4 linked regions of the Homo sapiens genome follow. The protein of the gene in region 1 purifies or fractionates together with the protein of each later gene. This does not show direct contact. Each region holds a gene or a part of one and is shown in the gene's direction. Other genes may lie near its edges.

Region 1 (3,500 bases):
ATGCTGGTGAAAACACCTGTGACAGAGTGAGGGCACCTGGACTCGCAGAGGGGGAAATAGAGCTGTGATGCAGATGCAGCAGAGGTCTCAGTGCAGGGGAGGCTCTGGAGCTGGGATGATCCTTCAAAGTCGCCCTGAATACAAGCAAGGGGGCCAGGCTTTCAACCCCCTTCTGCCTTTCCTCTAGCCTTGTCTAGTCATTGGGTGCAGGCTGACCTTGAGTGAAGGAACTCCCCTTTTAAGGAGGGACTCATCTGTGAGCCATCAGCAAGCAACATTCATGGCAGCTGGAGAAATGAACGCCTAGGTCCTTAAGTCATACAGGCCCCTAGAGCATCTGAATCAGAATCACCTGGGAGGCTTATCGTAAAACACACTTTTTGGCATCCAGAGGTGCTGAATTGATCTGTAGGAGTGAGGGCTGGGCATTTGCATTTTCTATAAGATCCCTAGGTGATTTTGATAGTCACTAGAGTTTGAGAGTCATTCTGGTATAGGACTTTAAGGCCAAAGTATACTTGTCATAAGGGAGTATTTGGCCAGTTCCTGGAAGGTTGAATGTCCTTTATCTCATTTTAGATCTAAGGATTCTATTAGGTTGATCTGGATTGTTAAAACAGATACTTTGTTTCTTTGATTTGAATAAAATTATTTTCATCCTAGACAAGAAATCGCTTTGAAGGCACTAGATCAGAAGTGGAATCACTGATGAAAAAGATGAAGGAGAATCCCCTTGAGCACAAGACCATCAGTCCCTACACCATGGAGGGATACCTCTACGTGCAGGAGAAACGTGAGTGCTTTGACTAGCAACAGCTTGGGATGTACTCAGGCCTCTTACCTAGAAGGTGGAGGATGTATTCAGCAGTGCCTACCTTACTGTAGATACATGCTTGGATAACAAGAACAATTTTATAGTTCACCTTTCCAAAGAGAAAGATGATGTCCACAGAATCTTGTCTACCTTTGTTTTTCTTTATGAATGGGAATTCCTTTGGGAACCTGCAATTCTTTAAGGCTCTGTGGTTGCTCTTCTCTCTCTAATGTTACTCTACTCTTGGGGTTCCTGTACCCCTAGTCCAGCTTTATGTACCATACCCTGAGCATAGCAGCCTTGGAAAGGTCTTACATGCTAGGCCCCTGTTATCTATCAGCAGTGTATCCTTTGGTAGACTTAATACTTGGTGATTCTGTTTTCATTTGACATTGTTTCAGCAAGGCCCAAACAATCATGACTTAGGCCTTTTTCCTCTTCTCCTCAACTCATTTCATTCCAACACTTGAATTTTATGAAAAGTAGGAACAAAGGCTCACTTCAAGAGCCAAGAAGAAGGCTGCATGCGGTGGCTCACGTCTGTAATCCCAGCACTTTTGGAGGCTGAGGTCGGTGGATTGCTTGAGCTCAGGAGTTCAAGACCAGCCTGGGCAACATAGTGAAACCCTGTCTCTACAAAAATACAAAAAGTAGCCAGGTGTGGTGGTGTGCACCTGTGGGCCCAGCTACTTGGGAGGCTGAGGTGGGAGGATTGCTTACCGGAGTGAGCCTGTTGAGGTTTATAAGAGCTCAGGAGGTGGAGGCTGCAGTGAGCTGAGATTGCCACCACTGTACTCCAGCCTGGGTGACAGAGCAAGACCCTGTCTCTTAAAAGAAAAAAAAAAAAGAGCCAAGAATACTCATTGTTCTGCCAGTGATGTCTAGGAAAGGAATGCCAGGTGCTGCTAACATGGACATTTTAGTGATGACTCACAAGTTCATGCCTTATGGCTGGGGAAAGGCTCTGTGATGGGGCCGTGCCGTTTAGGATAGCACATTCAGACTTAATTCGTGTATGCAATGCTAGGAACGAAAGAAAGTGAATGTTTTTTTCTTTAGTGGGTAATTCTTCTCCTAGTCCTTTGGTAGAGAACATTGGTCTTTTCAGATTTTTGCAGGTTTTGTGTTCTTTCATGTCCTGCTCTTCATGTAGAGTTAGGCAGATGTCTTCACTCCTAATAGCTTTCCGATGGGATAGAATAGAAATACTTGGTTTCACTAATTATTCTATTTAGTAATTACTCAAAAATTTGTTTGGACTTAAGTTTCCTGGTAACTGGGGCAGTAGTGGTGTTGGAGTATTGGCTGTGATGAGGATTACATTCCTTATTCTTACAGAGATGAGCCTGTTGAGGTTTATAAGAAATGTAGCTACTTCAGCTGTGTGTTTTGTATATGCCTGAATACAAAGTGATCCCCTCTTTGCCCAGTGAGAAGATCCCTGCAAAAGGTTTTAGGTCTACTTGAAAATATAAATTTTTAGGACTCTAAAAATATAGTTCAAAGTCCACCTATAATACTTAATTTGTTAATATATCATTCACTTACATATATAAAATCAATGTTGTTTTTTTGCACTCTCATGTCACACACTTTTATTCAGACACTTCACATGCTCTTTCAACATTAGTGTGTTGATTATCATGAGGACACTTTTTTGTTCCCTAACACAGTCCAGAGCACATGATGGGGATACAGCACTTTTTTTTTAATTTTAAATTTTTTGTAACTTGTTATTTTGAAATAATTTCAGACATACAGAAAAGTCGCAACAATGGTGTAAGGAACAACCATAAACCCTTTACCCAGTGCATCAATTTTTAACATTTAGCCACAATGATATCATTCCTTCTCTCTCTGTGTGGGTGTGTGAGTATTCACGTGAGTACAACTTGCATACACACACATACACACTTTTTTCTGAGTCATTTGAGAATATGGTTGCATATACCATGCTTCTTCAGTAGTGAGTATTTTCTAAGAATAAAAGATATTCTTTTTATGTAAACACATCTGTTAGGTTGGTGCAAGAGTAATTATGGTTTTTGCCATTAAAAGTAATAGCTAAAATCGCAATTGAACTCTTGCCATTAAAAGTAATGGCTAAAATCGCAATTGAACTCTTGCACCAACCTAATATCAAATTTAACATTGGTGCAATATTTAATCTGAACTACAGTCCGTATTCCAGTTTTGCCAGTTGTATCAATAATGGCCTTCTAAAGCATTTTGTTGTTCTCCAGTACAGAACCTCATACTGCATTTAGTTGTCATGACTTTAGTCTCCTTTAATCTGGAACAGTTCTCCAGCTTTTCTTTGTCTTTCATGACATTGACATTTTTGAACAACACAGTCCAGTTCCTTTATACAGTTTTCTTCAGCATGGGTTTATCTGGTGTTTCTTCATGATTAGATTTGGATTATGCATCTCTGGTCAAATCCTACATAAGAGTTCTTCTCTGGGGCCACATCTGGACACATGTGGTGTCGACCTGCCCCTCAGTGGTGATGTAAATTTTGATCACCCAGTCAAGGTATTGTCTGGTTTCTCCACTATACAGTCACTATTTTCCCCTTGTAACTAATTAGCAATCTGAAGGTAACACCTTAAGATCATGTAAATATCCTTCTCCTTATCACACTTTACCTCCATAGATTTAGCATCCATTGACAATCCTTGCCTGA
Region 2 (3,500 bases), on another chromosome or scaffold:
GTTCATGCCTGTAATCCCAGGACTTTGGGAGGCCGAGGCGGGTGAATCACCTGAGGTCAGGAGTTCAAGACCAGCCTGACCAGCATGGTGAAACCTTATCTCTACTAAAAATACAATAATTAGCCAGGCATGGTGGTGGGCACCTGTAATCCCAGCTACTCCAGAGACTAAGGCAGGAGAATCACTTGAACCTGGGAGGTGGAGGTTGCGGTGAACCCAGATCGAGCCACTGTACTCCAGCCTGGGTAACAGAGTGAGACTCTGTCTCGAGAAAAAGAAAAAAAAAAAGTACTATAAATTCTTTGATTAGAATTAGAAATCCTTAAATTGTAATTTGTATCTGTACTTATTATTATTTCACTTTATTATCCAGACCTGAGTTTAGGTTTTTAATTTTTTTGCCTAATAAAAACAATATCAAAAGTATTTCTTTTTGTTCTTAATAGTGTTTTCAGGTTTCTAATTCTCCCTTAGGCCTTTTAGGCCAATGTTTGTCTCCAATTTTGTATTCTATAAACTGGACCAAGTAAATGGACTGTCATTGACTCATTGAGCGCATAAAGAATCTTACAGAAAGATTGGAAGGGAAATACATTGAAGTACGAATTGTGATTTAGTTACGATAGGAGAATAAGAGTCAATGTGTTTTGTTTTTCAAATTGGCTGTATAATGTGGTTATTATAGCTTATGCATTGGAAACATAAAATACATTAATTTCACTATAGTTCATTAAGCAACCTCATCTGGAATCAACCAGTATATACAAAAATATTGTTAAATATTTTATTAGTAGAGTCATTTGTTTTCAGAAGTCATTTCAGGAAGCTTAAAGCCAATTCAGTTATTGTCATAGTCAGTTTTGTATTATAATAATGACTACCCATGTAATTTTAAAATCCTAGCACCTTTTTAGGGAACAGAGTAAAGAGGCTGATTTTTCATGTTAGGGGTGGATATTCTAAATGTGCTCCTCATTCTCATTTGGGAAAGTAAATAATTACTTAATGAGAAAGTTGGGCTTATACTGTAGTACTAGTAGGCCTTTACTATCTGCATGATGCAAAAGGAACACATAAAATTGTAATAATTGCATGTTCATTAAATGTTATGTAAAATTATTTGTATTTGCAAGTTATAGAACAACTTGAAGCAAATGACAATTTTTTTGGATTATGGATGGGACCTTTTTTTGGTAGAAATTGCACTCAAATATTAAATATACGTGGACTTCCATAGTACCTTACTAAACTTTATTTCTTATAGCAATTTTCAGTTTTATGCATTGTAATTATGTTTATACATATTTATTACCTTTACACACTTCAGATTTCTATAGAGTAGAAACCATTGAATTCAAAACTCTTCAAAAAAACAAGAAACTGTGATTTATGGAGTTTTCTATTCCTCACATTGCCTTAAATACAGTTAAGTGTGCAGTAAATGGTTATTGACTAAATAAACTGAATGTTATTTAGTTACAGTTGTCTCTGAGGGTTTTTCCCCTTAGACATTTGATTATGAAAATTTTCAAATGCTCACAAAAGTTGAAGGAATTGACATGTGAATGCTCATTTACCCATCACCTAGATTATACAATCTACATTTTGCTTTGTTTGCTTGAACTCATATCCCTCTATGCGTTTACCCATTTATCAGTTGATTTATTTTTTATTCATTTTATGCATTTCGAAAGTAAAGTACAGGCATTTGTGAAGAGTGTAAAGTTGTTTAACCTCTATATTTCAAGGTATATCCCTTGAAAACAAAGTCAGTGAGAAAATGAAATTTGATAAACATTTACTTATGCACAGCGTTTTCAGAAGCAAATTTAAAGAACAAACTGTGTCCAAGGACTGAATTGATTTATTGTAAATTGTTAGGAAATACAAAATAGCATTTTTTTTTTTTTTTTGCGTAACATACCTTTGTTACAAGTTCATTTTATATGTAAGTAAGGTATGAAGAAAAGCAACTCTTAAAGTAGAAATAATTTATCTTGGAAAGTAGTTTGTTACCTATCTCTGTGAGATTGATCCATTTATGTACTCAATAAATAATTTTTAAAGACATAATTTATCTGGCACTGTGTTAAGTAGCAAAGATAATGTGCCTTTATCAAACCATCTGTGATCATTCCATTATTATTATTGTTTTTACATTTACCATGCTACAAAAGAACCCTTGGTAAAATCACCATGAAATTTCATGGAGTTAACAAATTAGATAAAGTTACATGAAAGCAGCAATTTTTTATCTGTGAATGTATTAATTGATGAGAATACAGGAAGTTATTATTTTCCAGAGGTAGTGAGGATGCCAGACATGTGAGTAAATATTTTCAGTGCAACATAAGTGCTAGAATAGAAACATGTACAAAGTGATTCGAAAGGTTTGAGAGGAGAGTTGCTAAAAGCCTACAGGTGTTGAAGAGAAGATCCCAGAGGTAACATTTGAACTTGTTTGAATAATTTTTGAGATGGGAGACAGTGGTTTTTAGGTGGAGGACACTGCCTAACAATAAATATATTAGATGCGTGCCTTGGAGGAAGTACATGGCTGGAGGATAAGGTAGATGAAAAGAGATGGTTGAAATCACTTATGGAAGGAGTTAGGATGCTTTTGCTATGTCTTTGTAGACCTTGCAAGCTTGTCCAATGCACCTTATTTTGTTGCTGTTGTTGTTCTGTTTTGCTTTGTTTTAGTCTTTTAGCTGCCCAAAGCCATGGTTTTTAGTTTCTGTCTCCAGTGATAAGTGGAAAAGAGGGGTGATAAAGGGGCTTTACTGGCCTAACCAGAAACAGAAACTAAGGACTCATGACTGTATTCTCTCCCTTAGACACCCCTAATTAGGTTTTTAGACAGGTCATATCATTTGAAAAGATAACTCTAGCATCAGTAGTTGAGATGGGTTAGATAGAGAGACATTGACTAATAGATGTGAAGTAGTTGTCCAGGTGAGATGATAATCTAGACTAAGGCAGCAGTAGTAGAGAGATGAATGGGAAAATAGTACATTTGAGTATTAGAGAAACAGAAATATAGTCAGGCATGTGGTATACACCTGTAGTCCCATGGACTTGGGAGGCTGAGGTAGGAGGATTGCTTGAGCCTTGGAGTTTCAGGCCAGCCTGGGCAATATAGTAAGATCCTGTCTCAAAGAATAAATAGAAACAAATAACATGGGTAACTGGTTGGTTGTGGATGGAGGAGGAGATAAAGGGCTCAGTGACTTAAAGATTTCTAGAGCAGTTAATTGGGTACAGGTGGGTGCTACTGCTCCCACCTCCCACAAAACAGATTCATTTGACATGTTTATTTTGGAGTTCCTATAGAAAGTCCAAGTATAGGATCTAGCATTTAGAGTGGTCTGAGACTTCATAGGGATCTATTGGACATTATATCAAATTTGCCTCTGCAATTTTTCATACCACTAAGCTTCTCTACACAGGCTTCTCTACAAAGGCTTGTGGCTTAAAAAAGAAAAATGATGTTTTAAAAG
Region 3 (3,500 bases), on another chromosome or scaffold:
AGTCCTCCTACCTTGGCCTCCCAGAGTGTTGCAATTACAGGCATGAACCACTGCTCCTGGCCTCAATAGTTAACTATTGAGGAGGATCAAAAGGATATCTGATTTGTTTCTCATTCCAAAATAAATTCCAGTTTGGTCAGACTTGTATATTTTCAATATTAATCATAAACATTCTAGAAGAAAACATGTATAAAGACCTTTTTTCTAAGTCTAGCAAACCCAAAAGTCCTAAAGGGGAAATGACAAGCTTGTATAAAAATTGGAAAATTCTGTATCACCAAAACAGCTTTTTTGGAAAAAACAGATAAACTAGAAAACAACATGTGCAATATGATCTGGTTTCTGCCTAAGTCATCAGCTCCATCTGCTGCATTCCCTCCTCCCCATCAATTCTACACACACTTACAGCTACACTCTGGTCTTTCCTTCCTGAGGATGCTCAGTAAATAGTCATTGAATAAATGAATTAATTCCATGACAGTTTGCAGGTCAATATGTATAATATAATAAAACCTTTTTTTTTTTTATGAGATGGAGTTTCAGTCTGTCACCCAGTCTGGAGGGCAGTGGCATGATCTCGGCTCACTGCAACCTCCATCTCCCGAGTTCAAATGATCCTCTCACCTCAGCCCCCCGAGTACTTAGAATTACCAGTGCGCACCACCACACCTGGCTAACTTTTGTATTTTTAGTAGACATGGGTTTCACCGTGTTGGCCAGACTGGTCTTGAACTCTTGATCCCAAGTAATCTGCCCTCCTTGGCCTCCCAAAGTGCTGTGATTACAGGCATGAGCCACTACCCCTGGCCACAATAAAACTTCTTAAAATGAGTAAAGAAGATTAACAGTCCATTTAAAGTTGCCAGAGAACAAGTTGGGCAAGTCAGGAAAAGAAATGCAAATGGCTAACAAATATAAAACTTTTAATAAATACCAATTAAAACAGCATTGAGATTCTGTTTCCCTTCTTGAACACTACCTCCTCATTTCTAACCATTTCCCTGGTGTCTTCCCAAAATGTCAACAAACCATACTGTGATCTCCTTTTAGGTCTTCCCTCTGTCTAGCATATACCTGGCATATGTTAGTTGCATTGTTATATAAACAAAAGTATTTAAGATATGTAATGAACCTCTAAGAGGCGTCAAGTGGGCAGAAGAGTAGAGGATTGGGGCTGCATGACCTTGCCTTTTTAAACTCCCCTTTTCCTCATAGTTCCCTTGATGGTGTTAACCTGCCTGTTTATTCTCTTTGCCCTTTTACATTTCTTCAGAAGGACATGCTCCTTAGTGGCAGGAACAGGAACTTCTTCCAGTGCTGGTCAGCCAGCAAAAATGACTCTTTTTTGTGTATGTAAATAAATGGCTGTTATTGTTGTGATACAATTGCTTAATCATTAATAGGTCCTTTTTTTGAAGTCCTGTGAATAGTTTTATTCAGACTTAATACCACAGCATCTCAGATACCTTATCTTCCTTTGAGTGTTATGGAAAAATAGACTAAAACTGCTCTCTCTATACAAAAGTTTGTGTTATTTGAAAAGATACAACAGGCATGCCTAGTGTTTATTTTAAGATAAGATTATAATATCTGCATAGTAGAAACCTCCAGCTTTTAGAGTTATGATTTTGTAATCTGAAATCCTATTTTTTGAGTCTAATATTTACTTGTGCTAGCAAGTCTAGAAATACTTGTTGAAAGACTGGAATGATTAATGTAGATCCTTGAACACTTTCATGCTCTAAAAAAGACAAATTTTGTTTGTTTTAAAGAAGAGTAGTGTAGCCATATTAAACACATTTGGAAAATAAGAGGGAAAACCCGACTCAATCTCATCTGAAAAAATTGTGATAGACTTTTAAAAAATAGTTTCCAAATTTGTATTTATGTGGTTAAAATTAGGTATCTTGCCTTTCTTCCCCACTTGATAAATCCTTAGTATTTTTCCATGTTGTTATATCATTTAAAGACCGTCACTTTAAATGGCTGCATAATAGTCTCTTAGTCACATGGTCCTATTGTATGTGCAGTGCTTATGAATAAGAGTGGGTGGTACGTTGTTTCTTTAAAAATGTGACTCATAACAAAAATTTATTCTAAGAAAATTGCTAATCATATGGATTTTGATAAATAGGAGAATGATGACCTTATTGCAAAGCAGTGACTTTTTGTTTGTAAACATATGAACCTGAAACTTGAGGAAGTTGGTTGTCAGTTGTGAGTATTATACCATCTATTAGATAGATATTTTGAGACGTTACAAACAAGTTGGGTAGCTGCTTATTTTTGAAGGGAGATTTTTGTTGTGAATCTTAATGTTAACATTATGTTATTTTATAGATCATGGAGCTTTGTGGTGCAACAAGACTTGGTTATTTTGGAAGAAGTCAGTTCTACATTGCTTTGAAACTTGTAGCTGTTGCCCAGTCTGGTTTCCCTTTAAGAGTGGAAAGTATAAATACAGGTAAATATAGAGTACACTAGTAACCGAAAGAAAATAGGCTTCTATTACAAATGAAGTCAAGTCAATAGAACTCTTGTGTCTTTCTGATCTTATAGTGGCATTTGTGACCTTGAGTGAAGTGTCGTGACTTTATTCCCACTACCTTGCATTTCTCACTTGAAAATACTAGAAAAATATGTCTGACCTGTATTACGGCATAGTATATGTACTTCATCTGTATTTGACTATATGTACTGTTCAAATGGCAATTTTTTAAGAATTAATTTACCAAAAGTTGTTTAGAAATATTTTAGGCGAATAGTTTTATTAAGGTAAATGATAAATTACAGCGACCATCTTCATGTATAGCGTCCCTGTGTTCTTCATTTCCAATAAAACAACATTATACTTTGTATTTTTGTTTGTTTGTTTGTTTGGGAAGGCTGTGGAGGCTTCAGTTGAAATTAAGAAGTAACAGTTAACCTAAACTTTTTGATCGATAAGAGACAATATTAAAATATTGGCAGACTAAAATCTAGTTATAGACATCTGACCACATTACAAGTTTGTATTAGTCCATTTTAACACTGCTATAAAGAAATCCCTGAGACTGGGTAATGTATAAACAAGAGAGGTTTAATTGACTCACTTCTGCATAGCTCGGGAGGCCACAGGAAACCTACAATCGTGGCAGAACGTAAATGGAAAGCAAGGCACATCTTATGTGGCCACAGGAGAGAGAGAGAGAGAGAGAGAGAGAGAGAGAGAGAGAGAGCAAGGGGGAATAGCCACAGACATTTAAACCATCAGATCTCATGAGAACTTGCTCACTATCACAAGAGCAGCATGGGGGAACCGCCCCCATGATCTAATCACCTCCCATGTGGGAATTACAATTCAAGATGAGATTTGGGTGGGAACACAGAGTCAAACCATATCGAAGTGTTACATCAGATAATTTGTTTTTCAAGTATTTAGAGGCTTGTTGATGTGAAAGAAGATAGAAATTCTATAAAGAAAGGCACTTAAATGCAGAGGGTTCTTTCATTTTCATAGA
Region 4 (2,485 bases), on another chromosome or scaffold:
AGTGGTCCCAGCTACTTGGGAGGCTGAGGCAGGAGGATCGCTTGAACCCTGGAGGTTGAGGCTACAGTGAGCTAAAATCATGCCACTGCACTCCAGCCTGGGTGACAAAGTGAGACTTTGTCTCAAAAAAAAAAAAAGTACTTTTCCAAAATACTTATCCAGGCCAGGGGCAGTGGCTCACACTTGTAATCCCAGCACTTTCGGAGGCCAAGGTGTGTGGATCACCTGAGGTCAGGAGTTCGAGACCAGCCTGGCCAACATGGCGAAACCTGGTCTCTACTAAAAATACAAAAATTAGCCGGGTGTGGTGGTGTGCACCTGTAATCCCAGCTACTCAGGAGGCTGAGGCAGGAGAATCACTTGAACCCAGGAGGTGGATGTTGCAGTGAGCCAAGATCGTGCCACTGCACTCCAGCCAGCAACAGAGTGAGACTCCATCTCAAAAAACAAACCAAAAAAACCCGAAAATACTTCTCCGTATCCCACTGAAACACTAGTTAAGGTATTCTAAGGTAACTGAGAGCTAAATGGTGATTTGCCACTCCTTTGGCTTGGTGGGGCTGGAAATCCCTTTTATTCTCCCATGTTGTAATGAGATGTCTTTGCTCACTCTTTTTTTTCTTTTTCTTTAAATCTCAGAAGGAGGCCCCAACCCTGAGCACAACAGCAACCTGGCCAATATCTTAGAGGTGTGTCGCAGCAAACATATGCCCAAGTCAACGATTGAGACAGCACTGAAAATGGAGGTGTGTACTGTTTGACATGCTTTTTATTGATCACAGCCTCTACCGGGCTCATGTCTGGATGGCCAACAAACACACTGTAAATTATCAGAGGGGCCAAGTGCAGTGGCTCACGACTATAATCCCAGCACTTTGGGAGGCTAAGGTGGGTGGATCACTTGAGGCCAGGAGTTTGGAGACCAGCCTGGCCAGCATGGTGAAACTCCATCTCTACTAAAAATACAAAAATTAGCTGGGCGTGGTGGCATATGCTTGTAATCCCAGCTACTGGGGAGGCTGAGGTGGAGGATCGCTTGAACCCAGGAGGTAGAGATTGCGGTGAGCCGAGATTGCACCACTGCACTCCAGCCTGGGCGACAGAGCGAGACTCTGTCTCAAAAAAAAAAAAAAAAATTATCAGAGAGAACGGTAGCAATGTAGTTGACGCCCTCAGCCTAGAGTCTTCTGAGAGCTCACCGTCCTTGGTCATTGGTTCTAGGAGCACAACTGGGAGTAGGATGCATAGGCAGTATGCAGGGCCATACAGTCAAGACCGGGACTGCTCAGCCAAGTTGTAGGGAGATGAGGTATTATAGAAAGAAGGGGCAGTGTGGGAGAAAGCCCTTACGTTAGGTGGAGGAAGTGTTTGTTTTTCAGATGTTTATGCCCTAAAGGAGAAAAGCCAGTAGAAAGGGAGAGGATGGGGGTGATAGAGATGGTGGGAGGGGCAGGTATATAGAGTCCACGTAAGGGTACACCTTTCTCTGGGGCAGGTAGGGAGGCTCTGAGGAAGTAATAGTTATCTTAATAGCTCAAAATTATTGAGTGCTTCCTGCAGGCTAAGCATGGATAAAAACTCTATGTGTGTTATCTCATCGAATCCTCAAAACCACCGTAAGTAGAAACTGAGGCACAGGAATGTTAGGTGAGTTGACTCAAGTCGCATAGAAAATGACAGACTTGAAACCAGATAGTCAGACTTTAGAGCCTGTGCTCTAACCGTTATGCTTATTGCCTTCATGTAGGCCATGGTGCAGAGAAGGTGGTGGAGACAGCAACTATTTTCCCCACCTAGTGGCCCTTTTTACCTTTGTGAAAGAGGAAGGGAGAAGTTATGAGTTGAGAATTCCTGGAAAGTTGCAGGACAGGGTGCTTGGAGTGGGGAATATTGAATACATGGACAAGGGATGAGTAGGGGCATGGAAGGTCCAGAAGAGATTAGTCCCTAGAGCTCTGGATTAATTGTTTCAATTTTGAGACCATGCTGTTTTCAGCAGCTCTTACGACAAGGCCTAGGTGTGTGATATTTCACAGCAGTACTCAGCAGCCCAGGGTAGGGACCTTGAGACTTGACCGGTGGGTTTCTTACAGGATGGGGGTGTAGGAGGATGAGTCTGAGTGGGATTGGGTAGGGACTAGATGTGGCATTTGGTTAGGGATGGTAGGAAGCAAAGCTGAGAGATGGCTGATGGATTGTTCAGGGACCGGAGAAACAGACTCCTTCCAAGTTAGGGGTAGTACTTCCTGTTACCTCAAAAGTTGGTTAGAGGGTGGGGACAAAAATAAAGATTGAGAGCTCAGGCTCCAGCCTAGAGAGCCCATCCCATGGAGTTAGTTTTGCGATACTTGTAGTTCTGGGCTGACATGTGGGAAGGAATTGGGAAACAGGAAAATGTGCTTGTGTTGTTTATTGCAGAAATCCAAGGACACTTATTTGCTGTATGAGGGTCGAGGCCCTGGTGGCTCTTCTCTGCTCATCGAGG

What was found.
Region 2: the proteins of ARHGAP26 (region 1) and FIP1L1 purify together in Homo sapiens (affinity purification with mass spectrometry, with the first as the bait; one large-scale study listed by BioGRID). This does not show direct contact.
Region 3: the proteins of ARHGAP26 (region 1) and REPS1 purify together in Homo sapiens (affinity purification with mass spectrometry, with the first as the bait; one large-scale study listed by BioGRID). This does not show direct contact.
Region 4: the proteins of ARHGAP26 (region 1) and TACO1 purify together in Homo sapiens (affinity purification with mass spectrometry; one large-scale study listed by BioGRID and IntAct). This does not show direct contact.

The regions. Positions count from the first base shown.
Region 1 is NC_000005.10:142,902,877-142,906,376, forward strand, and holds part of ARHGAP26 (rho GTPase-activating protein 26), read left to right. Parts: intron 1-663; coding exon 664-793; intron 794-3,500. UniProt on the Homo sapiens protein: GTPase-activating protein for RHOA and CDC42. Facilitates mitochondrial quality control by promoting Parkin-mediated recruitment of autophagosomes to damaged mitochondria.
Region 2 is NC_000004.12:53,384,141-53,387,640, forward strand, and holds part of FIP1L1 (pre-mRNA 3'-end-processing factor FIP1), read left to right. Parts: intron 1-3,500.
Region 3 is NC_000006.12:138,946,754-138,950,253, reverse strand, and holds part of REPS1 (ralBP1-associated Eps domain-containing protein 1), read left to right. Parts: intron 1-2,340; coding exon 2,341-2,464; intron 2,465-3,500. UniProt on the Homo sapiens protein: May coordinate the cellular actions of activated EGF receptors and Ral-GTPases.
Region 4 is NC_000017.11:63,603,895-63,606,379, forward strand, and holds part of TACO1 (translational activator of cytochrome c oxidase 1), read left to right. Parts: intron 1-639; coding exon 640-746; intron 747-2,418; coding exon 2,419-2,485. UniProt on the Homo sapiens protein: Acts as a translational activator of mitochondrially-encoded cytochrome c oxidase 1.